Linked DNA regions of Homo sapiens. The protein of the gene in region 1 purifies or fractionates together with the protein of each later gene. This does not show direct contact. Each region holds a gene or a part of one and is shown in the gene's direction. Other genes may lie near its edges.

The links.
Region 2: the proteins of SCLY (region 1) and UBFD1 fractionate together in Homo sapiens (co-fractionation; one large-scale study listed by BioGRID). This does not show direct contact.
Region 3: the proteins of SCLY (region 1) and RNPEP fractionate together in Homo sapiens (co-fractionation; one large-scale study listed by BioGRID). This does not show direct contact.
Region 4: the proteins of SCLY (region 1) and KYAT1 fractionate together in Homo sapiens (co-fractionation; one large-scale study listed by BioGRID). This does not show direct contact.
Region 5: the proteins of SCLY (region 1) and WDR1 fractionate together in Homo sapiens (co-fractionation; one large-scale study listed by BioGRID). This does not show direct contact.

What each region holds. Positions count from the first base shown.
Region 1 is NC_000002.12:238,090,494-238,096,487, forward strand, and holds part of SCLY (selenocysteine lyase), read left to right. Parts: intron 1-724; coding exon 725-761; intron 762-3,367; coding exon 3,368-3,451; intron 3,452-3,926; coding exon 3,927-4,029; intron 4,030-5,994. UniProt on the Homo sapiens protein: Catalyzes the decomposition of L-selenocysteine to L-alanine and elemental selenium.
Region 2 is NC_000016.10:23,566,273-23,572,266, forward strand, and holds part of UBFD1 (ubiquitin domain-containing protein UBFD1), read left to right. Parts: exon of another isoform or gene 1-708; intron 709-714; coding exon 715-797; exon of another isoform or gene 798-798; intron 799-4,207; coding exon 4,208-4,318; coding exon of another isoform or gene 4,319-4,359; 3' UTR 4,360-5,994. UniProt on the Homo sapiens protein: May play a role as NF-kappa-B regulator.
Region 3 is NC_000001.11:201,991,815-201,997,808, forward strand, and holds part of RNPEP (aminopeptidase B), read left to right. Parts: intron 1-4,332; coding exon 4,333-4,449; exon of another isoform or gene 4,450-4,595; intron 4,596-5,504; coding exon 5,505-5,740; intron 5,741-5,994. UniProt on the Homo sapiens protein: Exopeptidase which selectively removes arginine and/or lysine residues from the N-terminus of several peptide substrates including Arg(0)-Leu-enkephalin, Arg(0)-Met-enkephalin and Arg(-1)-Lys(0)-somatostatin-14.
Region 4 is NC_000009.12:128,838,850-128,844,843, reverse strand, and holds part of KYAT1 (kynurenine--oxoglutarate transaminase 1), read left to right. Parts: intron 1-1,683; exon of another isoform or gene 1,684-2,042; coding exon 2,043-2,190; intron 2,191-5,994. Other genes in the region: KYAT1-SPOUT1 (uncharacterized protein LOC127739546), read left to right, coding at 2,043-2,190. UniProt on the Homo sapiens protein: Catalyzes the irreversible transamination of the L-tryptophan metabolite L-kynurenine to form kynurenic acid (KA), an intermediate in the tryptophan catabolic pathway which is also a broad spectrum antagonist of the three ionotropic excitatory amino acid receptors among others.
Region 5 is NC_000004.12:10,081,128-10,087,121, reverse strand, and holds part of WDR1 (WD repeat-containing protein 1), read left to right. Parts: intron 1-2,591; coding exon 2,592-2,679; intron 2,680-3,943; coding exon 3,944-4,100; intron 4,101-5,677; coding exon 5,678-5,765; intron 5,766-5,994.

The sequences.
Region 1 (5,994 bases):
GCTGGGCATGGCGGCACATGCCTGTAATCCCAGATACTCAGGAAGCTGAGGCAGGAGAATCACTTGAACCCGGCAGGTGGAGGATGCAGTGAGTCGAGATCCACTGCACTCCAGCCTGGGCAACAGAACGAGACCCCATCTAAAAAAAAATTAAGAAATTAATTATTAAGTTAATTTTTTTTTCCTGAAAATAGGGTAATGAGTTCTGTTTTTCGGTTTGTTAGGTCAGAGTATGCAAGCCATTGTCTTTAGGGGTCTCTTGCCCATCTCCTGTGTGTGTGCACACCCACACGCGCTTGCACACATACACACACACACACACCCCTCTTGTTTGCTGATGCCTGAAATGTTGAGAACAAAGGGTTCTCCCCTGTTCCATACTATACTGATTTGGCAGTGAGGACTAAAGAGAGCTGTGCCTTGGGGCCTACAGGAGGCAGAGTGCTTGCTTTGGGTAGGAAAAGGGTCCAGATAGAACTGTCACAGTGAACACCCAACACATCACCCACAGTGGGCCTCGTTGACCTTCACTGGGCCAGGGCAAGTGAAAACTTGGCAGGGGAGGTTTCTGGGGCCTGCAGCTGCCATTGAGATAGCCACATGGCGCGTGCTTAGGAAAGATGTAGCGTGAGTTTGATTTTATTTTAACACAATGACTTTCATGGAGACAGGATTCCTTCCTGAGACATTTGTTTATTCTTGCTTAATCCCTTGTTTCTTACAGGACAGAGAACACCCCAATGATTGCTGGCCTTGGGAAGGTGAGCCCTGGTGAGCTTGAGGAGATGAGTTGATTGCTTTGTCATCAGTGTCCCCAGCGGCTCTAGTAGGAATCTGGGGCTTTAGGGAGATCATATTCGTGATCTCATAAGCGGACTGACAAGAAAAAGCCTGGAATCTGATTTATCAACCTGGAGAGCTGTACTTTTTCAGATCTGTGGATTAGTGGCACTTGTTTAGCATTTAAAAGGGAAAAACTCCTTGTCTGTGTCTCTTCTGACATGAGAAACAGTGATACTGTTACAGCAGAGGTGAAGTGTCAAGCTGCAGGTTCACCATTCCCAAAGGCGTCGGCAGCCCCCGCACCATCGACGTTCTGTCCCCGATTGGTCTGTGGGGTGGCCAATCCAGCACCTGCCACCAGCCCTCCACTGGGGCCTGTCCTGCTTCTGCGACAGTAACCAGGCTCAGGTTTTGCCGTGCGAAGGCAGAGGTACTGGTTACACCTCGGCGTCTGCAGGCTGCTCCCTCACTGTGCGGCCTCTGGTCAAAGGCCACCACCTTCAAGCAACCCTCCATGAACCACAGCTACATTGGTTCCCCCATGTCCCCTGCTGTCACCCTCTATCCCTGACACTGCTTTATTTCCCCTATCTGATGTTTCTCTGTAGTGTGTTCAGATGTATGCCCCACCTTCTGCTTCCCCGAGAGCAGGGGCTTGGCCATGTCGGCCTCAGTATCCCCAGTACAGAGAAAGGGCTTAGCGCCCAGGAGGCCGGGCCTTGGGAAGAGTATGAATGGATTCCCTGTTACTTAGAATATTCAAAATTATATTATTAACAGTGATAACTGTGGCTACATTTACTAGAAGGAAGAGTGTGTGTTTGTTTGAGATGGAGTCTCACTCTGTCACCCAGGCTGGAGTGCAGTGGCACGACCTTGGCTCACTGCAGCCTCCATCTCCCGGGTTCAAGAGATTCTCCCACTTCAGTCTCCAAGTAGTTGGAACCACAGGCATGCGCCACCATGCCTGGCTAATTTTTGTATTTTTAGTAGAGACAGGGTTTCACCATGTTGTCCAGCTGGTCTCGAACTCCTAACCTCAGGTGATCCACCCGCCTTGGCCTCCCAAAGTGCTGGGATTACAGGCATGAGCCACCACGCCCAGCCGGAAGAGTGTGTTTTAAGTGGAGTCCGGTACCTGCTCGTATTGACCTGAGTGATGAAGTAGTGGTGCCGTCCACAGGCTTTGAAATACCCAGGGTTCAAATCCTGGCTTGAAGCTTCACTCACCGTGTGCCTTGGGTCAGGTCGCTGGAACTCCCTGAGTCCTGGCTGCCAGATGGGAATCACGGTAACAGCTTCCTAGGTAGAGCTTCAGCTCACAGTGCTGGAAGCCCCCCAGCCCCTGACCTTCTCCGTGCTCCTGCAGCTGCATCTGCACCTGTAATGGCACAAGTGCCACAGCTGGGTCCCAGCCACAGCACCACACCCCCACTGGTTCTTCAGCTTCGCCCAGCCCAGACCCCAATGCCACCAGCGCTCTAGACAGCCCCCCTCCGCCACCCAGCCTAGACTCCATCCTGCACACGCCCTCCCCAGCGTGCTTTCCCTCACCCATTCCTTTCTGCCTTGGTTGCGTGCTGGCAGCCCTGCACCTGAGCCCTTGTGGGTCCGTCTGTCCTGTCACTGTGATGCTAGCTTGTGCTCCTGCCTTTAAACTTGACATCTCAGCTAGGCCCTGGCCCATGTCCTGAGAGATCCATTCCTCTGAGTTCAAAACCTGTCCCGACTGCTCTCCTCCAACCCTCTTCCCACCCTGGGCACCTCTTGCTATCCAGGTTCTCACCTCTGAAGTCCGGGGGATGCCCTCAGTCCCTCCTTGTCATCGTCCCCTGCCTCCAATGCAGCACCTTCCTGTCTGTCTGGATTCCAGAATACACCCACTACCGGCCTCATGTCCATTTTCATGGCCACCAACCCTAGACCAAGGGTCTGGATGCCTGCCATGGCCTCCTGGGGGCCTGCTGCTGCCATTTTCCACACGGCCACAGAATGACCAACAGACAGGCCAGTCAGACCATCGCATCCCTCCCTCAGCCTCACTGCGTCTGCCCCGTGGCCGGGCCTGCAGGGCCTGTCGATCTGTCCCTGCGCCTTCACCCCCTCCACACTCTCCACCCGCCACGCCAGGCCCCTCTGTTCTAGAGACAGAATGTCTGTCTGTCCCCTGCAAAGCCCTTGCTGGGACGCCATTCCCTGCCCTTGTACAGCCATCTCTGTCACCACCCCACCTTGGGCCTGCGAGGTGCCTTCACAGCGCCAACTGGTGGGTAGGAGTCTGTTCCCCTCTTCCCCTGCTTTTGTCCGTCTGCCTCTCTGGGATGCTGGCTCCTCGAGGGAGCCCTTTCAGGGCTGCTTTGCTGAGGCATCTCCAGTGCCTGGTGCTGTCAGGAGGTACCTGGTGAAGTCAGTTTCTGGGGCACTTCCACACCCTCCAAATGGCAGCACTCAAAAAATATGGTCTGTCTGTGACTGTCAGGAGAATGAGCAGTTTCAGGAAATGCCACCTGTACCGTTGAAAGCTTTTTGGCCCTCCTTTATTTTGCAAGAATTGTGCATCCACTTGTTGTGTGTCTGCCCCCAGGCCGCGGAGCTGGTGACCCAGAACTGCGAGGCTTATGAGGCCCACATGAGGGACGTCCGCGACTACCTGGAAGAGAGGCTGGAAGTGAGCGCAGCGTGGGGTGGGCACCAGGAGGGGGAGGGTGCGTGGGGCAGGTGCCCAGAGAGGAGGGGTGTGGTGCTCCCAGACCCCAGGACCTGTGGGGATTGCAGCGTAGCCTGGAACTCAGCAGGATGCAGTGAGGGAAGAAAGAACAGTGGCAGAAAGTACATTGGGATCTGAAACCCCGAAAGCAGGACCCTAGGCCAGGGGCATGATCTTTTTCAGAGACACAGGATCAAATATGCAGAGGTGGTATACCTCATGGTTTATGTGGAAGGTTCATATGTTTCTGAATATTTGGTTTTTCTCCTAATTAACTTTGCTTTCCATAGTCCGTCCCCGTAACTATTCTGGGTAGATGCTGATTGAAAAGTATGCACCTGCTGAAGTTGTGTTTCTGGAAAAGTCTAAATTTCAAACAGTTGCTGGTGGTGGTGTCTTTGAAGCTGTCACCAAATATTTCACTTATTTTTTTCAGGCTGAATTCGGTCAGAAGAGAATCCATCTGAATAGCCAGTTTCCAGGCACCCAGCGGCTTCCCAATACCTGTAACTTTTCCATCCGGGGACCCCGGCTTCAAGGTGATGGCCCCTCACCCTGGTCTTTCCGAGTGTGAGCACAGCTCCCTCGGTGCGTGGATTCTGGTCCGAGCCAGTGACTCCCACTCGCCCTGCCCTGAGCATGACACAGCTCGGGCTGTCAGAGGGCCTTGCTGGGGTTGCCAAGAGCAGGCTCGGGTGGCTGTGCTGTGGTCCACAGGGCTCTCGCCGCTGGCCCCTCCTCTCCCTGACGTGGCTCATTTTGCTGCTGCTGGGATGTGGACTGTGGCAAACTCTCGTGTCTGGCATTAGCGCCACCCCAAAAGCCGTCAGGGAAGGAAGCAACATTAAATTCTAGACATTTGTCTATTTTGTTGGCAGTTTTAATTAAATATTTGAGTGAGGGAAAGGGGAGGTGATCAGTTTTAAAAACTGGCAGAGGCTGGGCACAGTGGCTCGTGCCTGTAATCCTAGCACTTTTGGAGGCTGAGGCAGGCTGATCACAAGGTCAAGAGATTGAGTCCAGCCTGGCCAACATGGAGAAACCCCATCTCTACCAAAAACTACAAAAAATTAGCCAGGCATAGTGGTGTGCACCTGTAGTCCCAGCTACTTGGGAGGCTGAGGCAGGAGAATTGCTTGAACCTGGAGGTTGCAGTGAGCCATAATTGAGCCACTGCACTCCAGCTTGGGTGACAGAGTGAGTGAGACTCTGTCTCAAACAAACAAAAAACAACAAAAATAACTGGCAGAGTAAGGATCAAGTGCAAATCTGGATTTCCTGCAACATCTGCCTCGGCTAGGAGCAGTTAGGATCACCCCCGTCCCAGATGCACCTAAAACCTGGTCTGCCCTGACTCCCTGAGAGTGGAAGTCCAGGTGATTGACCAGCCGCATGTCATTTGGGAGGAGGTTATAGTGGCCCTGAGATCACGATGAGCTGCATCTGTAAACAAGTTTTTGACTTCTTAGAAGATGAAAGTGTTGCTTCTTTCTTCTTCCTGGATCACGCAGAGAAACCCAGCAGTCGTGTTTGGCCCATGAAGAAGAACCCGTGGGTAACCGTCATGATGGCTGCGTTCATGAGAACCTGGGCTGAAATGCGTTCTTGTGGGCAGTGAAGCCTGGGTCTCCTTGACCATCTCAAATTCCTCACCATGGAAAGGAGAGTTCTCTGTCAACGTTCCCCTTGTTCTGGGGTCAGACTTTGTGTTCAGTGACAACCTGTGTTACTTTAAATGAGACAGAGGTTCTCATTTTATTTATTTATTTTTTGATTCAGGGTCTCACTCTGTCGTCACCCAGGCTGGAGTGCTGTGGCGCAATCACAGCCCACTGTAGCCTTGACCTTCTGGGTTCAAGTGATCCTCCTGCCTCAGCCTCCCTAGTAGCTGGGACTACAGGCATGCACCACCACACCTGGATAACTTTTTTTTTTTTTTTTGAGATGGAGTTTCACTCTTATTGCCCAGGCTTGAGTACAGTGGTATGATCTCGGCTCACCACAACCTCCACCTCCTGGGTTCAAGCGATTCTCCTGCCTCAGCGTCCAGAGTAGCTGGGATTACAGGTGCCTGCCACCACGCTGGGCTAATTTTTGTATTTTAAGTAGACACGGGGTGTTGCCATGTTGGCAAGGCTGGTCTCGAACTCCTGACCTCAGGCGATCCACCCACCTTGGCCCCCCAAAGTGCTGGGATTACAGGCATGAGCCACTATGCCCGGCCTTGGCTAATTTTTAAAAAATATTTTGTAGAGATAGGGTTTCCCTGTGTTGCCCAGGCTGGTCTCAAACTCCTGGCTCAAGCAGTCCTTCTACCTTGGCCTCCCAAAGTGCTGGGATTACAGGTGTAAGCCACTGCACCTGGCTGAAATTCTCAGGTTAATTACATCAGCAGTCATTAATGGCTGTGCTTGTGAAAGAAGAGGGAAATGCCTTCTGGCTTAATAGAACTCCCACGTGTCTCTACCATCCAGAACACAGGTGGAGACGTGATATTGCCGGGG
Region 2 (5,994 bases), on another chromosome or scaffold:
GGCCTCTTGACTCTCCCTACTGCCCAAGACCTTAGTCAATGCTGGGCTTGCATAAGGTTACAAAGGAATTTCTTGGGTATTTATTTATTTTATATTTTTTTTTGTTGAGATGGAGTTTCGCTCTTTGGCCCAGGCTGAAGTAAAGTGGCATGATCTCGGCTCACTGCAACTTCTGCCCCCCGGGTTCAAGCGATTCTCGTGCTTCAGCCTCCTGAGTAGCTGGGATTATAGGTGCCCACCACCACGCCTGGCTAATTTTTTGTATTTTTAGTAGAGACGGGGTTTCACCATGCTGGCCAGGCTGGTCTCGAACTCCTGATCTCAGGTGATCCACCCACCTTGGCCAAATCCTGACTCACAAGATGTTAGGATTACAGGCTTGAGCCACCGCGCCTGGCCTTTCTTGGATATTTATTAACCATCAGACTTTTAAAAAATAATCCCAGGGAAGATACAATTCTGCCCTCAGAGACCTTTACTATACCATTGCCAAACCCAGTTTCCCACTTGCTCCTACGGAGTTCCCAGCTCCCACACGAAGCCCTATGTGCACTGGTCAGAAGACCCTGTCGTGTTGTCCCCAGAGGGCATGGCGCCAGTCACTTGAGTTTACTGTAGATCCCGCAGCCACCAGCCCTGATGAGGGACTGCTGAGTCAGAGAAGTTAGAACAGGAGGGCCCTTTGAATAATCACTGTAATCCCTCTCAACTTAGAGCGGACTGAGAAATTGCCCATGGGCTCCATAAAAAATGTGGTCAGTGAACCTATCGAAGGACATGAAGACTACCACATGATGGTAAGTAGCGCTGGCTGAGTTCAGCCCCTCTCACTAGACTCCCACTTCACCTGGCAGGGAACAGTTTTAACTGAGCTTGTTTAACGGAAGAAAACTCAGTCTCCAGAAGATGCACTTTTTTAAGACCCTGATGTTTTCTTCATCTACTTAGAACTTAATCCATGGCCTCTATTCCTAGTTCTGTTTATTTTACACCCCCCCACACACACCTTCCATCAGTTTAAAGGGGATATGTTTTCTCTTACCTCTTTTAGAAAAGTCTCTCTTGCCTCCCTCTTGTCGTGTGTTGTTTCTAGACCAGGAAAATAAATATAAAGAGGAGGAATGGCTTGTGGATTTTCATTATAAGTTTTATCTTGCTTATAAAACAAAACTTGCCCTTAGCCTTGGTGTTGGTGAGGGCACCAGACAGCCTCTTTTCTGTAATAACGATGCCGCTCTTCCAGGCCCAGTGGCTGAGGGCCTCGTGGGGAAGACGGGCTCTGTGGAGCGTCTATTCTGCATAGAACCCACTCTGCAGAGAGCAGGCTACTCTTTCCCAAGACAGAATGTTTGGAGGTGTTGTGCAGGTCTGCAGAACAAAGCAAAAAATTCATTCATCTGGTAAAATGAGCAGCTTAGGCAGTTTCCAAAATTTTCCCAGTGCTCTTTGGAGGAGCCACATTGACCACGAAGTTGATTCTGCAGTTGCCCATCAGGGGCCTGGCCTGAGCAGCTGTAATGTGAGGGCGGGGCCTCCGGCCATTGTTCATCCAAGGAGGCAGGCCTTTCAGTGTCCATCCCACAGTGATGAAGCCACATCAGCCCATCCCAGGGAAAAGAAGGAACTAGTGGTTTGACCAGTAGATTGGGATAACAAGTCCCAGGCAGAGAGATGTGTTGGAAGATCCTCTTGCTATAGAAAAAAATCAAAGGGGCTTAAAATATGGTGGGCAAGGGAGGCAGCCCTGTTGGCATCCTGCCTAGTGTGGCTGTAGCAAGGCTGTAGCTGGGAGTGCAGTCCCTAGGCTGTGGGGCTCTTGGGGTTTTGTCTTCTGGAAGTGATGATGCCCCTTGGCAGCCCTTCCACCCCTACTCTCTCTGTAGTCTTTTTTTTTTTTTTTTTTTTTGAGACGGAATCTCGCTCTGTCACCAGGCTGAAGTGCAGTGGCGCTATCTCGGCTCACTGCAGCCTCTGCCTCCCAGGTTCAGGCGATTCTCCTGCCTCTGCCTCCTGAGTAGCAGGGATTACAGGCTCACGCCACCACACCCAGCTAATTTTTGTATTTTTAGTAGAGATGGGGTTTCACCATGTTGGCCAAGATGGTCTCAATCTCTTGACCTGGCGATCCGCCCACCTCAGCCTCCCAAAGTGCTGGGGTTACAGGCGTGAGCCTCCATGCCCAGCCCTCTCTCTGTAGTCTTTATTACAAGGATTGCAGACAAATTGGTTTGGCCTGGTCAGTTATTTTTTTCTGTTTTAACAGTTGGGCCAGGCGTGGTGGCTCATGCCTGTAATCCCAGCACTTTGGGAGGCTGAGGTGGGCGGATCATGAGGTCAGGAGTTTGAGACCAGCCTGACCAACATGGTGAAGCCCCGTCTCTACTAAAATTACAAAGATTAGCTGGGCGTGGTGGCGGGCACCTGTAATCCCAGCTACTCAGGAGGCTGAGGCAGGAGAACTGCTTGAATTGCTTGAACCTGGGAGGCGAAGGTTGTAGTGAGCAGAGATCGTGCCACTACACTCCAGCCTAGGTGACAGAGACTCTGTCTCAAAAAACAAACAAAAAAACAAAACAAAAAAAAACAGTTGGACTTGAATGTTTTTAACTGGGCCCCATCACTCCTTTTTGAATAGTTTGTGTTGCCAGTCACACCCTGTAGGGTTTGTAGCCTGACTTTTCAAGCAGTGTGGTGGTAGGGAGTCCAAGGAAGTTGAGTGGACTGTTTTGGACGTCTTTGGAGGAATTGGTGTGGATGGGTAATGACTTAGTATTTCATTGAAATGTTCATTTCTCTCGAGTTATTTCTGGCAGAGGATAGCTCTAGTAGTCCCCTTCTCTTTTCCAAACACCTTTACCTTTGTCCTAATGAAAGTACTTAGTTATCTCTTTGGGCAGATGCTATTTCTCTAGCTAAATTAACATGTCATCATTCACAGTTGGAAAACTGTGGCTGTGCTTTTTCATTTTTAGAGAAATGTTTTTAAAATACAGAAAAGAGGCTGGGCGCAGTGGCTCACACCTGTAATCCCAGCACTTTGGGAGGCCGAGGTGGGTGAGTCACTTGAGGTCAGGAGTTTAAGACCAGCCTGGCCAACATGGTGAAACCCTGTCTCTACTGAAAATACAAATATTTAGCTGGGCATGGTGGCGCGCACCTGTAATCCCAGCTACTTGGGAGGCTAAGGGAGGAGAATCGCTTGAAAGTGGGAGGCGGAGGTTGCAGTGAGCTGAGATTGCACCGCTGCACTCCAGCCTGGGCAACAGAGAGAGACTCCAGCTCAGAAAAAATAAAAATAAAATACAGAAAAGAAAGAGAATAACTGTCACAAACCCATATATCCATCACTGAGAAGTGGCAATTGTAAATATTTTGTAATTTGCTTTAATTTTTTTAAATAAAAGAAATAAAGTTTATTCACAGCAATGATGGCCCCACTGTCTTCCCCTCCCCCATTACCATCGTCATGTGTCACGTGCGTCCTTCCCATCTATCCATTCTTTGATTTACACGTGTATCCACGAACAAGATGGAGTGTTGTTTTGTGCTTCCAGTTTTCGTAAATGGTATTATGTATTGTTCTACAACTTGCTTTTCTTTGGTTCAACATAAGAATCTGTCAGTATTAACTGTAGATCCATATGGACCCAGTTGATACCTCTTTAAAAAGAGCTCCAGTATTGGTGTGACTAAGCCTTGTCACTTTGAATTCTGCATTCCCTTACTGATGGATATGTAGGTTGCCCCAGGTTTTTGTGGTTTCAGACAGTGCTGCAATGAACATTCATACCTGTTTTCTTGAGCATGTGTGACAGGTTTTCTAGGGCAGCGTTTCTCCAACTGTGGTCCCTGGATCAGTAGTGTTGCATCACCTGGGAGCTTGCTAGTTTCTCAGGCCCCACCCCAGACCTCCCCAAATTAGAAACTTCACAGGGTTGGAGCCTGCTGATCCATGTTCCAGCAAGCCCCCCGGATGGCTCTGATGACCACTCAGGTTTGAGAACTGCTGCTTTAGGGTTGGCTCAGCTTAACCCTCAGCCTGCCTGTTTTTGTTTTTGGTTGGGAGAATGCTCCCCACGTGCAAAGTTTTGTTTGGTTTTTCTTCCCTTTTTAATTAACTCACATCCCAACCCTCACCCATGTTTGTCCTGCCTGCTTGGTCTCCCGACCTCTGAAGTACCGCTTGGTTTTCCTTTTTCCCTTCCAGGCGTTTCAGTTGGGCCCCACGGAAGCCTCTTACTACTGGGTGTACTGGGTTCCAACTCAATATGTGGATGCAATCAAAGACACTGTGCTGGGGAAATGGCAGTATTTTTGAAAGCACTTTCACCTCTGGCCCAGGAGACTGACCCAAAGTGAAGGACATTGCCGGGAGAGGCCTGCAGCATCCCTGGATTTCAGAGTTCTGGAACTTTGTTCATAAAAAATCTATATTCAATCTGAGGTGATGTGGTGACTGAAGCCAGAGGTGATGTACTTTCACCATTAGCTTAATTTTAACTTAAAATTACCAGTTCCCTTTCTTGCAGTCAGCTTCATACCATTTTTAAAGTCAATACGATGGAAATCAATAAATCTGAATTCCGAACATGTTGTGTGGAATACTCTTAAGTGTGTTTGAGAGTAGATCTGCCAATTATGTTGACAAGGGAATGATCAAAAGCTTTGTTTTTTTTAAAAAAAAAAAAAGCAGTTTCAATTGAAATATTTTCATACATCTTTGGTTGCAAACATTTGGACTGCATTGCAATGAGTTGGGGTGTTTTTTTTTTCCTTTTTTGTATAAAATTGTATGCAAAATGGGGGTGGGTTAGTAAGCCACATATTTCTGTCCATTGATTCAGATTTAATTCTTTCCCTTTTTCATTCTCTCGCTTCCTCAATTTGAGTTTTTGTTTTAAGAACCCAAAGATGTCAGTTCTTCTTTTGGTACCTCATCAACGCTTCCTTTCCTGGGCTCCCTCCCGCCGTGCTGCTGCTGCCTGTGAACGCACGGTGGGAGAGGAAGAGCTGCTCAGTCTTGGGCAAGGAGCTCTCACACTTGCTGTGGTGTTCGTTGAGCAGCAGAGTATCTCCCAGTGACTCCTGTTTAAATGTCTTGCCCTTTGGGCCCCCATCTCCAAGGAGTTCCATTGCTGGTTGGATGATTGTCTGCACCCCTCACTGAGCTTGGCCTAGAGGCCCAGCCTGGCATGGTTGTGCCTGGGCTGTGCCGCTCAACAGCCCCAGCTCCCAAGCAGACAAAGACCTCTTCCAGGAGGAGCCAGGTAGAAGATAGTTATACAGCCATATAGCTGCAGATCCAGATAACCTTCTTTCTTTGGAAGTTTTCAAGAAATTCTTAAGCAGTCCAAGGATGATTTCAATTATGCTTCTCCATTGGGTCCTTCTGCTCATGCATTCAGTTCAAGTGTCCTTTATCCCAGGTTCAGAGATGCTGCCTTTCTGAAGAAGACATCTGACCCTAGCAGGTTGGCCAGTGTTATTGAACAACAAAAATGGGATAAATTGCTTTCATGATTAGCTCACCTTCTTCTGGTTTTAGCCCTTCTGTTCTCTGTACACGTGAACTTCTGTCATCTCCTTCTGGCTTGGTTGCCTCTGAAAGGAGGGAAAGTCTCTTGGTAAATTATCTCTTTTGTGCTGTTTGCTGTTTCTCTGCTGCCGTCTTTGCAGTTCTCCTCTCACTGGTTGCAGGCTTTCATAGTAAGGTTTGGCGAGAAATGTTCCAAACATCACATTTTGGATTCTAGGCTGTCACCCCTCATTCTGTGAAACGTATTAGCATGTGTTCGCCCAAGATGACTATTCCTTGTGAGCCAGTTAATGATGATATTCTACGCCCTTCCCTTCTAAGCTGTAGTTCAGGAATCCAGCCCACATAGACAGACTCTTGCTTTCCATGGTGTAGTCAATGCCAAGTGATGCATCTAGGCAGGAAAATCTACTCTTTGCTTTTTTGGGGGCAATTAGTACATTTGTGAAGTGCAGCAT
Region 3 (5,994 bases), on another chromosome or scaffold:
AACAAGCTGAAGTCCACTGGGCTGAAGGACTGTGGTAATTTTGACATCCAAGGTGGTGGTAGAACAATTCACAAAGTAATTCCTTGAAGATACTGACTGCCGTCCCATGATCTTTTTCTGTCTGGTTTCCTGTCACATCATCTTTGGCGACTTTTCTCTCCTAACACCCAGGGTTGAGGGTGGCTGCAGGGTTTCTTGTGCCTTTCTCCCTCCCTCCCTCCCTCCCTCTTTCTTTCTTTTCTTGCCTCGCTCTCTTGCCCAGGCTGGAATGCAGTGGCACAATAACAGCCCATTGAACCTCAAGCTACCAGGCTCAAGCAGTCCTCCCACTTCAGTCTCCAGAGTAGCTGGGACCACAGCTACTCTGTCACCATGCCCAGTTAATTTTATTTATTTTCTGCAGGAGCAAGGTCTTGCTATGTTGTCCAGGCTGATCTTGAACTCCTGGGCTCAAGAGATCCTCCCACCTCGGCCTCCCAAAGTGTTGGGATTGCAGGCATGAGCCACAACACCAACCTTCAGGGTTTCTTGACCTCTACTCAGGGAGCCTTCTCCACTCTGTCAGCCACCCATATTCACACCCATGCTCTGGAGTCTAGAGCCTAGACATCGTCATTGTCATGAACTGTACCATATCTGAACTTTTAAGGCCCTTGAGCCCCTTGTCCTCATTCATCCTGACTCTGCTAACCTTCCAGCTCTCTGACGGCCTCTCTCCCACTATATTCCACCATGTCTCCTCCTTGAGCTCATGGCAGCCTCCCTTCCGGCAAGCCACTCATTTCTCCTGGGCAGTCAAGACCCTCCTGACTGGGCTTCCCTCCCTGGCCCAAGTGTGTGGTTGGTTACCTCTTACCAACACCCCAAAGCCCCTTGCCCACTTCCCGCTGCTATAATGTCCCAGTCCCTTGTTATACAATTCCTTTTCTCTACTTCTATAAGTGGGTATTTGGGAGATGTAGAAAATAGTGAAACTACACAGTAATAACCACTACACCTTTCTCAATTCTTCGTGAAAAGTTGGAATTAAAGGAAAGTTGAAATAGACATGTGTGGGGTTTTCCAGAAAAATGTAACAGATGTACAGTCTTCAACTGCAGGTGTGCTTTCAAGGTTGTTCAACAGTCCTCTTATTTACCTTTCCATCTCACTCCCTTTAAGCTGTTCTAAGACTTTACTCTTCTCTTTAAGTTTGCTATCCAATCCCATCCCCTCATTTAAGCAGAAGGTCTTGTCTCCTGTTTTATTGAGAATATTAAATTCATCAGATATGATTATGTCAGTTTCCTGTCCTCCACTTAAAAAGTTATCTTCATCTGCTTTTATCCTTCCGGACTGCAACAAAGGTCCTTCCTTCTGTTTAAAGCCAAATCTCTTCCCTTACATGTCCTCTGGGACTTTGCCTCATCATTTACATCTCTCTCTTCAAATCTGCAGCCTCCCCCTCTAGACAAGCACCAGTTTCTCTAAGATCTATAGCAAAGCAAAAAACAAACTCAAGGCTGGGTGTGGTGGCTCACGCTTGTAATCCCAGCACTTTGGGAGGCCAAGGTGGGAGGATCACCAGAGGTCAGGAGTTTGAGACTAGCCTGGCCAACGTGGTGAAACCCCATCTCTCCTAAAAACACAAAAATCAGCCGGACATGGTGGTGCACACCTATAATCCCAGCTACTCAGGAGGCTGAGGCAGGAGAATCACTTGAACGTGGGAGGTGGAGGTTGCAGTGAGCCGAGATTGCACTACTGCACTCCAGCCTGGGTGACAAAGTGAGACTCCACCTCAAAAAAAAGCCAAAACAAAAAAAAAAAACAAACTCGGCCAGGTGCAGTGGCTCACGCCTGTAGTCCCAGCTACTTGGGAGGCTGAGGCAGGAGAATGGTGTGAACCCGGGAGGTGGAGCTTGCAGTGAGCCGAGATCGCGCCACTGCACTCCAGCCTGGGCAACAGAGCAAGACTCCGTCTCAACAAACAAACAAACAACTCAAAAAACCCTTAACTCCATATTCTCTTCTGGCACGACACACTGTCCTTCCCTCTGTAGCCAGGTGACTTCAGTGGCATGTATACGCACTGGCTGCACTTCTTGAAACCCCCCCACCCCACAATCATTTATTGCTACAACCCATTGGAATCCAGCCCCCCACCCTTGCCATGCCGTTGAAACTAGTAAGAGAGGCCATTCGCCTCAATACGGATAACATATGTGATGCTTTTTAGCCCTTGCCTTCATGTTCTGCTGTTTTTCTTCTGCCCCCATTGACCCTCCTCTGGCTTCTGTGACACCACCCATGCTGGTCATCAGGCCTCCTGGTTAGTCCTTTTCTCATCTCCTTCCCTGACTCCTCTGCCCAGCTCCTTGTGTGTCGATGTTGCCCAAGGCTCTGTCTTTGACCTGTTCTTTTCTTCTACATGCTTTCCTTGGAGAGCTCACCCATTCTTGTAGTTTAACATATTTTCTGTGTTCTGCAGCCAGGATGATATCTTAAAACTAAATCTGATAATGTCACTTGTTGGCTTAAAATGCTCCCATGGCTCTGAAGGTCCGGTTCTGTAACAGTGCACCTGAGGCTCTTCATGACCCGACCCTCTTGGGCATCTCATGTCCCACCTCCTGCCACTGCCTCCCTCATTGCAATCTGATCCTGTCCTCAAGTAATCCCAGACTCTCGGTGCTTCCTCACATGCATATGCAGTGTTCCATGGCTACGTCTTTGCTTTTGATATTTGGGAAGTACCTGATACTGGTTTCCCTGTATCTTTTCTTCCTGTTAGAATAGTTCCTATGCTTCAGCAAACGCAGAGGAAGTTTTCCCTCATCCGGGCCTGGACCCATCCCACTTTGCCATCAGTCTCTTTTTTTTTTTTTTTTGAAACAGAGTCTTACTCTGTCACCCAGGCTGGAGTGCGATGGTGCAATCTTGGCTCCCCGCAACCTCTGCCACCCAGGTTCAAGCGATTCTCCTGCCTCAGCCTCTCAGGTAGCTGGGATTACAGGCATACACTACCATGTCCTGCTAATTTTTTTTTTTTTTTTTTTTTTTTTTAGTAGAAACAGCCTTTCACCATGTTGGTCAGGCTGGTCTGGTACTCTTGACCTCAGGTGAACCACCCACTTCGGCCTACCGAAGTACTGGGATTACAGACATGAGCCACCAGGCCCAGCCAGTCTCATTCATATGTCTGTGTGGAAAAGCAGTTCTAAGCGCAGCCAGGGGCTCTTGGTCAAGCAGAGCCTTTGGCTGCAGGATCCCTGAGTCCATTGCATCTTTCCATTAGACTGGATCTTCTTGTTTTGTTTTTGTTTTTGTTTTTGTTTCCTCCAAGCCACCTTTGTTTCCCTATCTTTTTATTAAGAAAATTTCAAATATTTAGAAAATTGAAAGGATGATGCATTGAACACCTATAGAACCATCTACTTTGTCATATTAGTTTTATGAGTGGATTTGTTTTTATTTTTGCTAGACCATTTAAAAGCAAGTAAATCTGTGTGCCTCTCTGAAGAATAGAGGCATTCTCCCTTATAACCACAATCCCATTATTGTACCTAAGGCAGTTAACAAATTTCTATTAACATTAGTAGGTTTGGGTCGGACACAGTGGCTCATGCCTATAATCCCAGCACTTTGAGAGGCTGAGGCAGGTGAATCACTTGAGCCCAGGAGTTCAAGACCAGCCAGGGCAACATAGCGAAACCCTACCTCTACAAAAATAAAAAAATTAGCCAGGCATGATGATGTGCAACTGTAGTCCTAGCTACTGGGGTTGGGGAGCTGAGATGGAAGGATCACTTGAGCCCCAGGAGGTGGAGGTTGGATCACACCACTGTACTCTAGCCTGGGCAACAGAGCAAGAACCTGTCTTAAAAAAAAAATAAAAAAGGTTTGTCTCTTAAGGTTTTATTCAATTCCAGATTCTACTATTAGAACGCTTTCTTATCTCTCCTCTAAGTAGGGAGAAGAAAACTAACATTTACTGTATAAATGTTTGAAGGGCTTTTGTGTGTTGTCTTATTTAATCTTCACTCATTTTACAGATGAGGAAACTGAGGCTCACAGAGGTTAAATCACTTTTGCAAGATCGCATTCAGTAGTGAAGCCATAACTGCGTAGCACGGTTCCACCTCCATGAGGCTGTCTTGGGTTCTTGTTTCTCAGGTGTGGTGAGCGGTCTCTTGGATCTGTGTGGTGATCCGATCTTGCACTCCGTCACTGTGGCTGACTGCATTGTCACATTCACTTGGCGGAGGCCAATTTCCTACAGGTGCTTTCAGGATCAGGTCACTGCGATGGTCTCTAAACACCATTCTGCTTTCTCTGCTCTCTTGTCTTTAGGAGCCGGGTGTGGGCTGAGCCCTGCCTGATTGATGCTGCCAAGGAGGAGTACAACGGGGTGATAGAAGAATTTTTGGCAACAGGAGAGAAGCTTTTTGGACCTTATGTTTGGGGAAGGTGTGGTATCACATTGACTCTAGTGTCTCCTGTTAAACTGAGTCACTGGCTTCCATTCTTCCTCTTCGTGTGGCTTTTCCACCTCCTGCCTCCCAGAGCAAAGTTTCCCTGATCCCAGAAGTGAAGGAGAGGAGGAAGAGAGGAGGGTATGAGCCAGGCTTCTCACTGTTGCTGAGGAGAGGGCCTAGGAGATGAGGTTCTTTGTGTGTGTGTGTGTGTGTGTGTGTGTGTGTGTGTGTGTGTGTTTTGAGATGGAGTCTCGCTCTGTCACCCAGGCTGGAGGGCAGTGGCGTGATCTCAGCTCACTGCAACCTCCACCTCCCAGGTTCAAGCGATTCTCCTGCCTCAGCCTCCAGAGTAGCTGGGATTACAGACGCCCTCCACCACACTCAGCTAATTTTTGTATTTTTAGTAGAGACAGGGTTTCACCATGTTGGCCAGGCTGGTCTCGAACTCCTGACCTCAGGTGATCTGTCCACCTTGGTCCCAAAGTGCTGGGATTACAGGTGTGAGCCACCAGGCCCGGCAGAGAAGAGGTTCTTGAGGTGTTCAAAATGTGACCTGCAGTTGCCAAGTTTGAGATGGGGCAGCACCGTCAAGGTCCTTTGTTGACCTGTGTTTTCCCATTGCTGGAAGTTTCCCCACACTCTGTTTTTAACTTTGACATCTTCAGACTTTAGGCTCCTTAGATAAAAGGCTCCAGGTTGGTCTTTATGACCCCAAGTTGGCCTCCAGGGAACTCCATGTGATGGAGCTGATAATACATTTATCACCTCCACCCCTGCTTGGAAGGAGAGAGGGAAACAAATGCCTGGAGAGTGAGCTCCAGGAGAGCAGACACCACCTCGATGAGGGAAGTCCCAGCAAGGCAGGGGAGCCACGTGGGAGAAGCATTGAGGAGCCTGGGCTTTATTTTCCGCACTGGGCCCGAAGTCGTACTCTGCCTGTTTAGTGACTGCATCTGTTAGGGCTTGGAAATAGGCTGGAAAGGGAGGCGAGGTAGGGTCTGCTCCGGGAAGCCAGGGCCTCTTGGTGACCTCCCCGCTTCTCGGCAGGTATGACTTGCTCTTCATGCCACCGTCCTTTCCATTTGGAGGAATGGAGAACCCTTGTCTGACCTTTGTCACCCCCTGCCTGCTAGCTGGGGACCGCTCCTTGGCAGATGTCATCATCCATGAGATCTCCCACAGTTGGTTTGGGAACCTGGTCACCAACGCCAACTGGGGTGAATTCTGGCTCAATGAAGGTTTCACCATGTACGCCCAGAGGAGGATCTCCACCATCCTCTTTGGTAAAGTGCCCACCCCTCTCCTAAGGAGTCTGCCTCCCATTCTTAACCTGTGGGGCCAGTGTGATCTCCTTATGGGGTTTCAGAATACAAGTGGGTGTGAAGAGACGAGGCAGTAGTGTGTATCCAACATTTTTCTGTATGTATGAATTGTCAAACCACACATGGTTTGACAACTGACTTTTTTTTAAAAAAACATTTCCCCAGGTCATTAGTTTTTTTTTTTTTTGAGACAGAGTTTTGCTCTTGTTGCCCAG
Region 4 (5,994 bases), on another chromosome or scaffold:
CGCCCAGGCTGGAGTGCAATGGTGCGGTCTCGGCTCACTGCAACCTCTGCCTCCTGGGTTCAAATGATTCTCCTGCTTCAGCCTCCAAGTAGCTGGGATTACAGGCGTGCAACACAACGCCCAGCTAATTTTTTTTCTTTTTCTTTTCCCCCGCAAGACAGAATCTTACTCTGTCACCCAGGCTGGAGTGCAGTGGCATGATCTCGGCTCACTGCAACCTCCCCCTCACAGGTTCAAGCAATTCTCCTGCCTCAGCCTCCCAAGTAGCTGGGATTACAGGCGTGCGCCACCACGCCCAGCTAATTTTTTTTTTTTTTTTGTATTTTTAGTAGAGATGAGATTTCACCATGTTTGCCAGGCTGGTCTCGAACTCCTGACCTCGTGATCCACCCGCCTCAGCCTCCCAAAGTACTGGGATTACAGGCATGAGCCACTGTGCCTGGCCCTAATTTTTATATCTTTAGAGAAAATGGGGTTTCAGCATGTTGTCCAGGCTGGTCTCAAACTCCTGACCTCAAGGGATCTGCCCTCCTCGGCCTTCCAAAGTGCTGGGGAATACAGGCATAAGCCACCGGGCCCAGCCAAAAATGACACATTTTAGACATATTTATTGGTATGCAAATTCAACTCAGCCAGGTCTTCACTCTGCTCCAAACTAGCCCCAAACCACATACCAGCCTCTTCATCCAGCTTCCCAGCCTTTCTCCCACCTGGAGAGGTGGCCCCCAGGCAGGGCCAGAACAGAGGATTATGGGTCCAGAGATGATGTGTGCCTGGGCTGGTGGGGCCCTGTTCTGCCCAGAGTAGGGTCAAGAGCATCAAACTTTGCTTGAGATGGAAGTAGAAAGGCTGGCTGGCTGTGCCTTGTACTAGCTGGGAGGCTTTAGGCAAGTCACTCCACTCCTTATCCCCACAGTGGTCCAGGAACAAGATGTGCCTCACAGGCCATTGTGAAGGCTATATGAGCAGAGCGTTTAACTGTGGTGTTGACGAATCCAAGGAGGAGTCATGCAATCTGTACAGGGGGTCTCAACTAGTATTTGGAAAGAATAGAGTAGGATAGGACAGGACAGAAAATACTGCAGTAGATTGCACCAAGAAGGATGAAGCTTCCATTCCATGTTTGTGCTCCACAGGGTTGATGATGCAAAGGTGATTTCTTGGCCGGTAGTGGTGGCTCACGCCTGTACTGCTAGCACTTTGAGAGGCCAAGGGGGGCGGTGGATCACCTGAGGTCAGGAGTTCGAGACCAGCCTGGCCAACATAGCAAAACCCCATCTGTACTAAAAATACAAAAATTAGCTGGGCGTGGTGGCGGGTGCCTGTAATCCCAGCTACTCAGGAGGCTGAGGCATGAGAATCGCTTGACCTCGGGAGGCGGAGGTTGCAGTGAGTTGAGATTGCACCACTGCACTCCAGCCTAGGGGATAGAGCGAAACTCTGTCAAAAAAAAAAAAAAAAGATGATTTCTTCCTATGGGTCATGGTGGAAGAACTTGGAAAGCCCCTGGGCTGATTCCTGCGATTAACAATGTGCCTGACTGACCTAATCTCAATGTAGGGGACCAGCTGTGACACTTAGGCAGATCTTCAGGCCAGGACAGTTGCTGATTGTCTAGTTTTTGTTTTTCTTGTGTGTGTATGTGTGTGTTTTTTGTTTTTTGTTTTTGTTTTTTTAAGACAGAATCTCACTCTTGTTATCCAGGCTGCAGTGCAATGGTGCGATCTCGGCTCACTTCAACCTCCGGTTCCCGGGTTCAAGTGATTCTTCTGCCTCAGCCTTCCAAGTAGCTGGGATTACAGGCCCCTGCCACCATGCCTGACTAACTTTTGTATTTTTAGTGAAGACAGAGTTTCACCATGTTGGCCAGGCTGGTCTCAAACTCCTGACCTCAGGTGATCCGCCCACCTCGGCCTCCCAAAGTGCTGGGATTACAGGCGTGAGCCACCACACCTGGCCGGTTGTCCAGTTTTTCTAAACAGGCCGAAGTCCAGGTCACCATGGAGGGCTGGGCTGGTGCTGATTCTCCATTTGTTACCCAGGGTGGAGTTTGTGAAACTGGCCAGTGAGCATGACGTCGTGAACTTGGGCCAGGGCTTCCCGGATTTCCCACCACCAGACTTTGCCGTGGAAGCCTTTCAGCACGCTGTCAGTGGAGACTTCATGCTTAACCAGTACACCAAGACATTTGTGAGTCTCCCCATCTCTCGTGGAGGCACTGGGGGAGGAAGGGGACAGGGCTTTCTGGACTTCAAGCCCACACAGCTGTCAGGCTTCAGGGGACAGAGCCAGGGGATTCTGTATGACCATAGTTCAGTGTTTACTGAGCGTATCCTCTGTCCCAGAGCCTTCGCCTCGTGGTCTAGTGGGGATGGCAGACAAGAAGCCAGTAACGACAGGCAGTTGATACATGATGTGATGGAGGAGGATGGGATATCGTGCGAGTAAGAAAGAGGGAATGAAACCTGGGGAGGGGGCTGGAGAGATGCACGAAGACTTCCTGGAGGAGGTGACACTTAAACCAAGTCCTGAAAGATGAGCTACTGGTTGGATTACACAATAAATCCAAACGTTTTCCGGAAAGGACCACATAGTAAATATGTGACACTGCTTGGATTAGAACAGTGGTTCTTTTTTTCTTTTTCTTTTTTGAGACAAGGTCTCACTCTGTTATCCAGGCTGGAGTGCAATGGTGCGATCATGGTCCACTGCAGCCTTGACCCTGCCAGTCTCAAGTGGTCCTCCCACCTCAGCCTCTGGAGTAACTGGGACTACAGGTGTGCATCACCATGCCCAGCTAATTTTATTTATATATTTATTTATTTATTTTTGAGTCAGGGTCTCACTCCTGTCACCTAGGCTAGAGTGTAGTGACATGATCACGGCTCACTGCAGCCTGTACCTCATGGGGCTCACATGATATGCCATTTCCTGGGGCTCATGTGATCCTCCCACCTCAGCCTCTAGAGTTGCTGGGACAACAGGGGCATGCCACCTCACCCAGCTAATTTAGAGACAGGGTTTCACCATGTTGCTCAGACTGGTCTGAAACTCCTGGGCTCAAGTGATCCTGCCACCTCGGCCTCCAAAAGTGCTGGGATTACAGGCGTGAGCCACTGAACCCTCATTCTTTTTTTTTTTTTTTTTTTGAGATGGAGTCTCCCTCTGTCGCCAGGCTGGAGTGCAGGGGCGCAATCTCGGCTCACTGCAACCTCCCCCTCCCAGGTTCAAGAGATTCTCCTGCCTCAGCCTCCCGAGTAGCTGGGACTATAGGGGTGCGCCCCCACGCCCAGCTAATTTTTGTTTTGTTTTTTTTTTAAGACAGTCTCGCACTGTCGCCCCGGCTGGAGTCTGGAGTGCAGCGGCACGATCTCGGCTCACTGCAACCTCCGCCTCCGCCTCCGCCTCCGCCTCCTGGGTTCAAGCCATTCTCCTGCCTCAGCCTCTTGAGTAGTTGGGATTACAGGCGCCCGCCACCATGCCCAGCTAATTTTTGTATTTTTAGTAGAGACGGGGTTTCACCATGTTGGCCAGGCTGGTCTCAAACTCCCGACCTCGTGATTCGCCTGCCTCGGCCTCCCAAAGTGCTGGGATTACAGGCGTGAGCCACCGCACCTGGCCATTTTTTGTATTTTTAGTGGATACTGGGTTTCACCATGTTAGTCCGGTTGGTCTCGATCTCTTGACCTCGTGATCCACCCACCTCAGCCTCCCAGAGTGCTGGGATTACAGGCGTGAGCCACCGCACCCGACCGCACTCGTTCTTTTTAATGGCTGCATACTGTTCTGTTGCCTGGATGTGCCATAATTTATTTAAGCAGTTCTGCACTGATGGACTGCTTCTGCTATCTCAATATCATAAGCAATGCCACAGCAAATATCCCTGTGTGGACATCTTTGTATACATATGTATTTCTCTAAGATAAATTCCTGGAGGTAAAACTAGCAAAAGAAAGACTATAAATATTTATAAATACAATAGGTGGATATTGTTAAGAAACAGTGTGTGCCTATAATCCCAGCTACTTGGGAGTCTGAGGCAGGAAGATTGTTTGAGCCCAGGAGTTTGAGGCCAGTGCAACATAGTGAGATCCTGTCTGAAAAATAAACAAACAACTAAGTAAATAATTGCCCTCCAGTAAGGTTTACTCATTTACATCCCTGCCAATAGGCTGGTCTCAGAGCTGGTTGGAAAGTTCCTTCTTTGATCCAAAAAAAAAAAAAATCATTTGGGTATGTATCTTTTTCTTTTCTTTCTTTCTTTCTTTTTTTTTTCTTTTAACTAGAGACAAAAGCTGGGTATGGTGGCTCACGCCTATAATCCCAGCATTCTGGGAGGCTAAGGCTGGCAGATCACCTGAGGTCAGGAGTTCAAGACCAGCCTGCCCAACATGGTGAGATCCCATCTCTAATAAAAATTAGCTGGGCGTGGTGGTGGGTGCCTGTAATCCCAACTACTTGGGAGGCTGAGGCACAAGAATCGCTTGAACCCGGGAGGCGGAGGTTGCAGTGGGCCGAGGTGGTGCCATTGCACTCCAGCCTGGGTGACAACAACAACAACAACAACAAAATAGAGACAGGGTCTCCTTATGTTACCCAGGCTGGTCTCAAACTCCTGGGCTCAAGCAATCCTCCCACCTTAGCCTCCCAAAGTGCTGGGTTACAGGCATGAGCCACTGTGCCCAGCCTCATTAAATATTTTACCTCTTTCTTGTATGTTGCAATATTTTTCTCTTCCTGTTTTGACCTTGCTCATGGTGCCTTTTATTTTTATTTAATTAATTAATTTATTGTCTAAGACAGAGTCTCAGTTTTATTACCCAGACTGGTGTGATCATAACTCACTTCAGCCTTGATCTCCTGGGCTCAAGCAATCCTCCTGCCTCAGCCTCCCGAGTACCTGGGACTACAGGCACGTGATACTACACCTGGATAATTTTTTTGATTTTCCATCAGTAGAGACAGAGTCCCTCTGTGTTGCCCAGGCTGTTCTCAAACTCCTGGCCTCAAGCAACCCTCCCGCCTCATACTCCCAAATGCTAGGATTACAGGCGTGAGCCACGGTGCCTGGCCTGTGCCTCTTGTTGTACAGAAAATTTTTATATTTGTGTGGCCAAATCTGGTTTAGTGAGTTACTGAGTTGAGTTCTAGATAAAGTTTCAATCACTTGGCTTAGCCTTGAGTATTTTTGTTTTGTTTTGTTTGTTTTTGTTTTTTTTGAGACGGAGTCTCGCTCTGTCGCCCAGGCTGGAGTGCAGTGGCGCGATCTCGGCTCACTGCAAGCTCCGCCTCCCGGGTTCACGCCATTCTTCTGCCTCAGCCTCCCGAGTAGAGCTGGGACTACAGGTGCCCGCCACCATGCCAGCTAATTTTTTGTATTTTTAGTAGAGACGGGGTTTCACCTTGAGTATTTTATAAGTGTCCTCAGCAAACAAGTTTCTGGATCTAATCTTCCTCTCAAAAAGGGGTGCTTACAAAGCTGCAACATGAGGTTCCTGACTGTCAACTGTGTGTGACTTTAGACAAGTAATTTCTTCTCTCTGGGTCTCTATTTTTCTACCTGTCAAATAGTGGGCATCAGGCCAGGCACGGTGGCTCACATCTGTAATCCCAGCACTTTGGGAGGCCAAAGCAGGCAGATTACCCAAGGTCAGAAGTTCGAAACCAGTCTGGCCAACATGGTGAAACCCCGTCTCCACTAAAAATACAAAAATTAACCAGGCATGGTGGTGCGTGCCTGTAGTCCCAGCTACTTGGGAGGCTGAGGCAGGAGAATCACTTGAACCCAGGAGGCGGAGGTTGCAGGGAGCCGCGATTGTGCCACTGCACTCCAGCCTGGGTGACATGAGTGAGACCCTGTCTCAAAATAAATAAATAAATAAATAAATAAATAAATAAATAAATAAAAGCCTCTCCCGCAAAGCTGCTGGGAGGATCAAGTGGGCACAAACATGCTTCTTAAACTTACAGATGTGGAAAGTGGGGAGTTTCTAC
Region 5 (5,994 bases), on another chromosome or scaffold:
AGGCCCCAAATGCCAACCTGGGGAGGAGCAAGGTGCCTGCTTCTGAACCCTAACCCGGAAGGGTTCACTTGAGCCAAAGGCTCCCTGTGTTCCATTGGCTGGGGGGGTCCTGCCTTCTCCCTCCACCCACACCAGCCAAGTTGACGCCTCTGGGAATCTCGCAGCTGGACAGGAGCCAGAGCAGGGGTCCCTTCTGTATCCTCAGGTCCTCCTCTCACAGCAGCGCCCTCGCCTGCTTCCCACACTGCATCTGCTGGGAACTCCAAGTCAGGTTCCCCCAGCGCTGGTGGCCCAGGGTGGGTGACCCCTCCTGCTATTCTAAGCTGTAATATCAAGGCAGGTGGACAATGCACTTCATCCCAGCAGCCCTTCTCGGGCTCCTGCTTTAAGCCACTCGGGGAGACAAACCCTAGCACTTCCCTCACCCATTGCATCCTGCTGCCGTGGAGCTCTGGGGGACCAGCCTCTGCAGAGGGTCTGAACCCTGCAGGGCTAGTGTGGGCCAGCCTGGAGCAGCCCCCGGGCCTGTGCACTCGGCCCGTGCTGTGCTGTCAGTGGCTCCTTCACACCACGGCTTCTAGGAGGGGCTGCTAGAATCACCAAATCCATTCTACATGGGAGTTTGCCCACGAGGAAGGGGCCTCGTTAACGTTGTGTGTGTGACTCCTACGGACCAGGTCACCTCAACGCTCATGCATAGAGTCACGGTTCCTTTGTGCCGGGGCAGTGGGGGCAGCAGCACTGCTGAGAGGGGGAAGGCTGAACCATAAAGGTTCACTAGACGTGGCCTCGAGGATAGAGGGGAATCGGGAGCGCCTCCTTGCTGGGCTCACAGCCCAGGGTGATGAGTATAAAAAGGAAGGCACGCACAGCATGGGGCCGAGGAGGTTGTTGCCTGGGGGAGCTGAGGGCTCTTGTCGAGACCATGCTCCAGTGGGCCTCCAAGTGGGATGGTGAGAAATTGTACACGGGTGAGTAAGGCTTCGCTACTGCCCAGAAAAACAGTTTCCCATGAGCCATCCCCGACAGTGTTCTCCAGGTGTCAGCCCTCAGGTCTGCCGTCCCGTTTCTGTTGGCAGGGCTGCCCTGAGAGTGCTCTTCCTAATACCACTGCTGCCAACTGTCTGGGGCCAGTGCACCCGGCCTGCCACCGTGGCTAAACTTATGTCCCAAAAAAGCAACCAGCATCCCACCCTTCCACCAAAACCCCAAGGGCCAGTTGTCAAAACCCCCATGTCCCAACTCTCAAATGCCACACCTGTGTGAGTCACGCAGATGCTGATGTTCGGTGCTGATCTGGGCTGCAGTGGGATGGAGCAGCAGGTATCAGCCCAGGCTGCGTGTTAGAACCACCTGGGAGCTCTAAAAAGCGCTGGCTGCTGACGCCCCCAGAGGCACTAAGTTTACAGGGAAGTCTCAGGGCAGCAGGAGCTTGCAGGCCTCCAGAAGGAACACCCGTGGGCATCTGGGCATGGCTAGGAGTGTTTCTGGTAAGTTCAAGGCATTGAGCCTGCACACAAGTCTCTTGGCCTCTTGCCGAGTGCACGTTCTGATTTGGCAGGAAGGTGGGCCTGAGCCCTGCTGGTGGGGGCTGTGCTGGTCTGAGGTCCGCGCTGTAAGGGACTGGTGGGATGCCACATTGGAAGGAGGCCGCCCAGCTCAGTGTCTCTTACTGGGGCATGTGATGATTTTTCCCCACGTCTCTGTGGAAAAGATGAAAGTAGCTGCATTCGTTGCCCATTCTCCAGTCCCACTGGTAACTGTGTACCTGTCTCCAAGGAGACCTGCATCCAAAGATCTATGCCATATTGTGGCAACATGTGGCATACCACAGAGATCAAGAATTCCTGCGGAAAAGCCCTGAGCTCAGAGGAGAGGGGCCAGCCAGGAGCTGGCCTCCCTTTGCAGGAGAAAGGCATGAGGAGCCTGCACCCTAGCTGTTATTTTTGTCTCAGGCTCAGATATGGAGGGGGCTAAACGCCGCCCTCTGGAAGCAGCTGTCTGGTTGTGGACCAGCCTTGTGTGCCCTCCACTGCAGCAGTCAGGGAGGTTAGGGTAGGAGCGTCAGCGTTCACGGACAGCCTTGGGCTTTTACAGTGATCAGAGAGACCCCTGCCCTCAGCAGGGCCAGCACTCCTGGGCAGGGAGAGAGAAGAAACCTCACAAACCAGGGCCTGAAGCGAATGTGGCCAGCGAAGTCCTCCTGGACCGACCCCCTTGTGGCTCCCCGCGACGGGTGCTGGTCGGCGGGGTGCAGGCCACGTGTCTGCACACGTTAGGTGCTCAGGTGCTGACGTGCTGGGCCTTGGTTAGACGCAGGTCTGGGCCCAGGTCTGGGTTAGGTACCTTGGAGGGAGGGGAATGAAGGGCAGGGTCTGTAGGTGACTGGGTAGCTTTGGAAAGGTTTCTTAGGGCTCGTGGGCCGTGCATTCGGGCAGCTGGGGCTACTGGGGCCTCAGAGCACCTGCACTGCCATGGATTGAGGGGCGTCTGCCCCCTCCATTACCCAGAAGCTTCGTTGGTGGAAAGCGGGTGGCAGAGGGCAGGGCAGTGTGTCATCAGCTTACCCGCCCAGTGTGTCTCCTTCACAGGGTCACAGTAAATCGATCCAGTGTCTGACGGTGCATAAAAACGGCGGCAAGTCCTACATTTACTCTGGGAGCCACGACGGACACATTAATATCCTTTGACTCAAAGAGCTGGCTCCGGAGCCGCTGGCTCTAGGGGGGAATTTCCTGTTCCCATGATGCCAGAGGCCAGGCCAGCCAGGTGGCTCCAGCTGCAGCCACAGCCACACGCTCTTCTGACCCGTGTGGCTTCTAGGGGTGGCCTGTCTGTACATGGGGACAGGCAACTGTCCCCTGGAGTTGTCCTTGGCAACTCCAGGGCTTATGCTGAGGAAAAGCCATGGGCGGCTCCGACCTGATCAGTCCCTTCTTGTCGTGCAACCCTGAGAGTGTGGCTTAACGGCCCTGAGCTTGGGCTGCCACTACCTCTGCCAATGGCACCTGGCGCCAGCCTTGGCCCTACTCCACATGGTGGGTTTCTTGATTCCTAGAATTCACAAGCACCTGGACACCCTTACGTTGGGTCCCCTTGTTTTAAAAATAGGAAAACCAGAGCCCAGAGAGCTGATGTGCCCGCCCCAGAGTCATGCAGCCTGTGGTCCACAGAGCCAGGGCTGGAGCTCCTGCGAGGTGCCTTGTGGCCCTTCGGTGATGTTCCCTGGAGGTGTTTGTGTCCCCCTTATAAGTCCTTGTCTGGGTTTCTTTAAATGAGTCCTGGTTTCTCCCTGATGATGGGGGCTTCTGTTGTGTTTTTCCTGCATGGCCTGGGGCTGGTGACACCCTGCTCACGGGTGTGTCTTGAACCTTGGAGCCACCATCTGCAGAGTGCCTGGGCAGGGATGCCCACACACGTTGCTGATGATGGCACCTGCTGTGCGTTGTTCTGCTGCCCTCCCTGAGCACCGTGCTGTGTTGGAGACTGCCTTTTGTGTGGACAGCTCTGGTCCGCATGTGCTGTACCTCCCAAAGGGACTGTCCGGGACCCAAGGAGGTCCCCCCAGGCTGGGAGAGGAGGGCAGACATGCCACCCTCTGCCCCCAAAACATAAAGAAATGTGGGGTTAGAGGGTTGCGCCTACCCGATAACTAGTAGCAGAGGAGACGCCGGAGCCTCCCCAGCTTGCTGGTCCCCAGTAGGCCTTCAGCACGGCTCCCTTTCTGCCTCATCCCAATCCCTGTGTGGTGCACCCACACTTCAGATACCCCTTCCTAAGAACGTGTCAACAGTGGACACTGCAGGCTTCCCAGGGGGAATGGTTATGTCCGTTTGCGGCGAGATTCTCATTCTTGATGTAAATGGAGAATCTTAGGACTGAAGCCACACCTGAGAACACCCAGCAGTCCTGGGAGCCGGGCTTTTCCTTAACCCCACCCTACATTACTGGGATTCAGAGACGGGGGAGAACGACTCCTTCGCTGGGAAAGGCCACACGAACCAGGTGTCCAGGATGACCGTGGATGAGTCGGGGCAGCTCATCAGCTGCAGCATGGACGACACCGTGCGGTACACCAGCCTCATGCTGCGGGACTACAGGTGAGAGCACTCGGGTCTGCGGGGGTTCCGGATGAGCCTCAGCTCCCCTCGGAGGGCTTGTGCCCTCCAGCAGTTACTGTTCTGGAGGACGCCTCACTTGCTCCTTTCATCTCTCCCACCCCGTCCCCAGCATTGTTCTCCTGTTGTTGGGCCCTGAGCCCAGCACTGTGTTACAGATCCAGGTGGTCTGGGTAATGCTCTTGCCCACAGACAACGACCAGGTGTGGACTCTGCCCTGGAAGCAGGGGCAGCAGATCACAGCCCTGTTCTCCAGGAACCTGCTGCGGTCTCTCCCTGTGTCCCTTTCCTCATCAGTAAAGGCGGGTACAGTGGAGCCTGCCTCAGGCTGTTGTGGATTAGGTGAGCCTGGCACAGGGCAGGTGCTGAGTACAAGACAGCATTCCCCTTCTGCTCAAGGGTGAGATGGGCACACAGTGATCTGGTTAAAAGACAATGTCTTGTTTGTTTTTGGTCTTGGGCCTTTGATTGGCAGTCAGTGGAGCTAGGAGAGTAGCAGTTTGCAAGTGATCTGAAGTCCTAAATGCAGTTGGAGGGACTTGAAAGAGAAATGTTCCAGGACCTGACGAGGCCACTGCACATCCAGTGTCCCCATGCCCAGGTCTGACCCCTCCTCTGGCCCTACATTTCTTGTGTAGACCCCTTTGTCACCCGGTAGTCCTGCCTAAGTCGTGTTGCCTGGGAGATGGGGACTCCTGGGGCCTGTTGATGGGAGCCTGGCACAGGGTGCAGCACGCAACTCCTAGCAGGTGTGCCGTCCTTGTAGGTAACACAGGCCCTGCCTGCCTGGCAGACTGGGCATCTGTAGGTAAATTGGGCCTCCCGATGAGTGGCAGAAGCGGCCCCAGAGCCCAGGCATCTGGGCCCTGGTCCTCTTTCTACTGCCCTGTGGTGACCCCACTCTTAACACGTCCCATAAAAGGGTCTTCCCTGGGCCAGATAACCCAAGGCAAGGCCCTTACAGAGCCAGCCTTGGCCTGGTGACCTTGCTGCAGAGCCTTTGGGGATGCCACACTTGGCCGAGTGACACAGAAATTTCCTTGATTATCTCAGTTTTCAAGAAGTTTGTGTGTATGAGTCTTTCTAGAACAAGTTTTGATAGCATTGGCCAAGGCTAAAAATAACATGATTTTCACCCATTAAAGGTAACGGATTCTTAAAAGTTACCCATCCATTTTGGGGAGCAGAGCTCAATTCTGTCTGTGCTCAGTAAACTCCAGTCTTTAGCCAACAGACAGGGGGACAAAAGCCACATCTGGGTGTAATGAGGGCTTACCACAGATAAATAGGAGCATAATCAACGCCTTTCACCGCCTCCCGCCCCTCCTTCCCCCCCCCCCACCCCTCCCCGGGCCCCCATTATGACTTATAATCTCTTTGCACCAGAGTCATGGATCGTTTTTTCGCTACCATCCCATATTTTAGCAAGTCTCTCCAGTATAGGTGGCAATAGAATTGCCTTCTAAGGAGCAAAACTGTGGTTTAACAGTAAATATGTATGCATACCTACCCTGAGCTGCTGCATTGTCGAAGTAATGTGCTTCCTTTCTCTCTAACAGCGGACAAGGAGTTGTGAAACTGGACGTTCAGCCAAAGTGCGTAGCCGTCGGCCCCGGGGGATACGCCGTGGTCGTGTGCATTGGACAGGTAGGGACCTGGCTTAGTGTTTGGGTGGGAGCCTGCAGCTGTGTGGTGCCTGCTTGCTGAATTTGACTCATGTCCCGTTTGACAGTTGCTCTAGCCAGTGTTTTGGTTGAGTGCTCATTTGCACTGCACTAAGGGATCTCACATATTTAATCCTCACCACCATCACATCAGTTGTACAGATGAAGAAATGGAGGCACGGAATGGATAAATTGGTTGTCCAAGGCCGCAG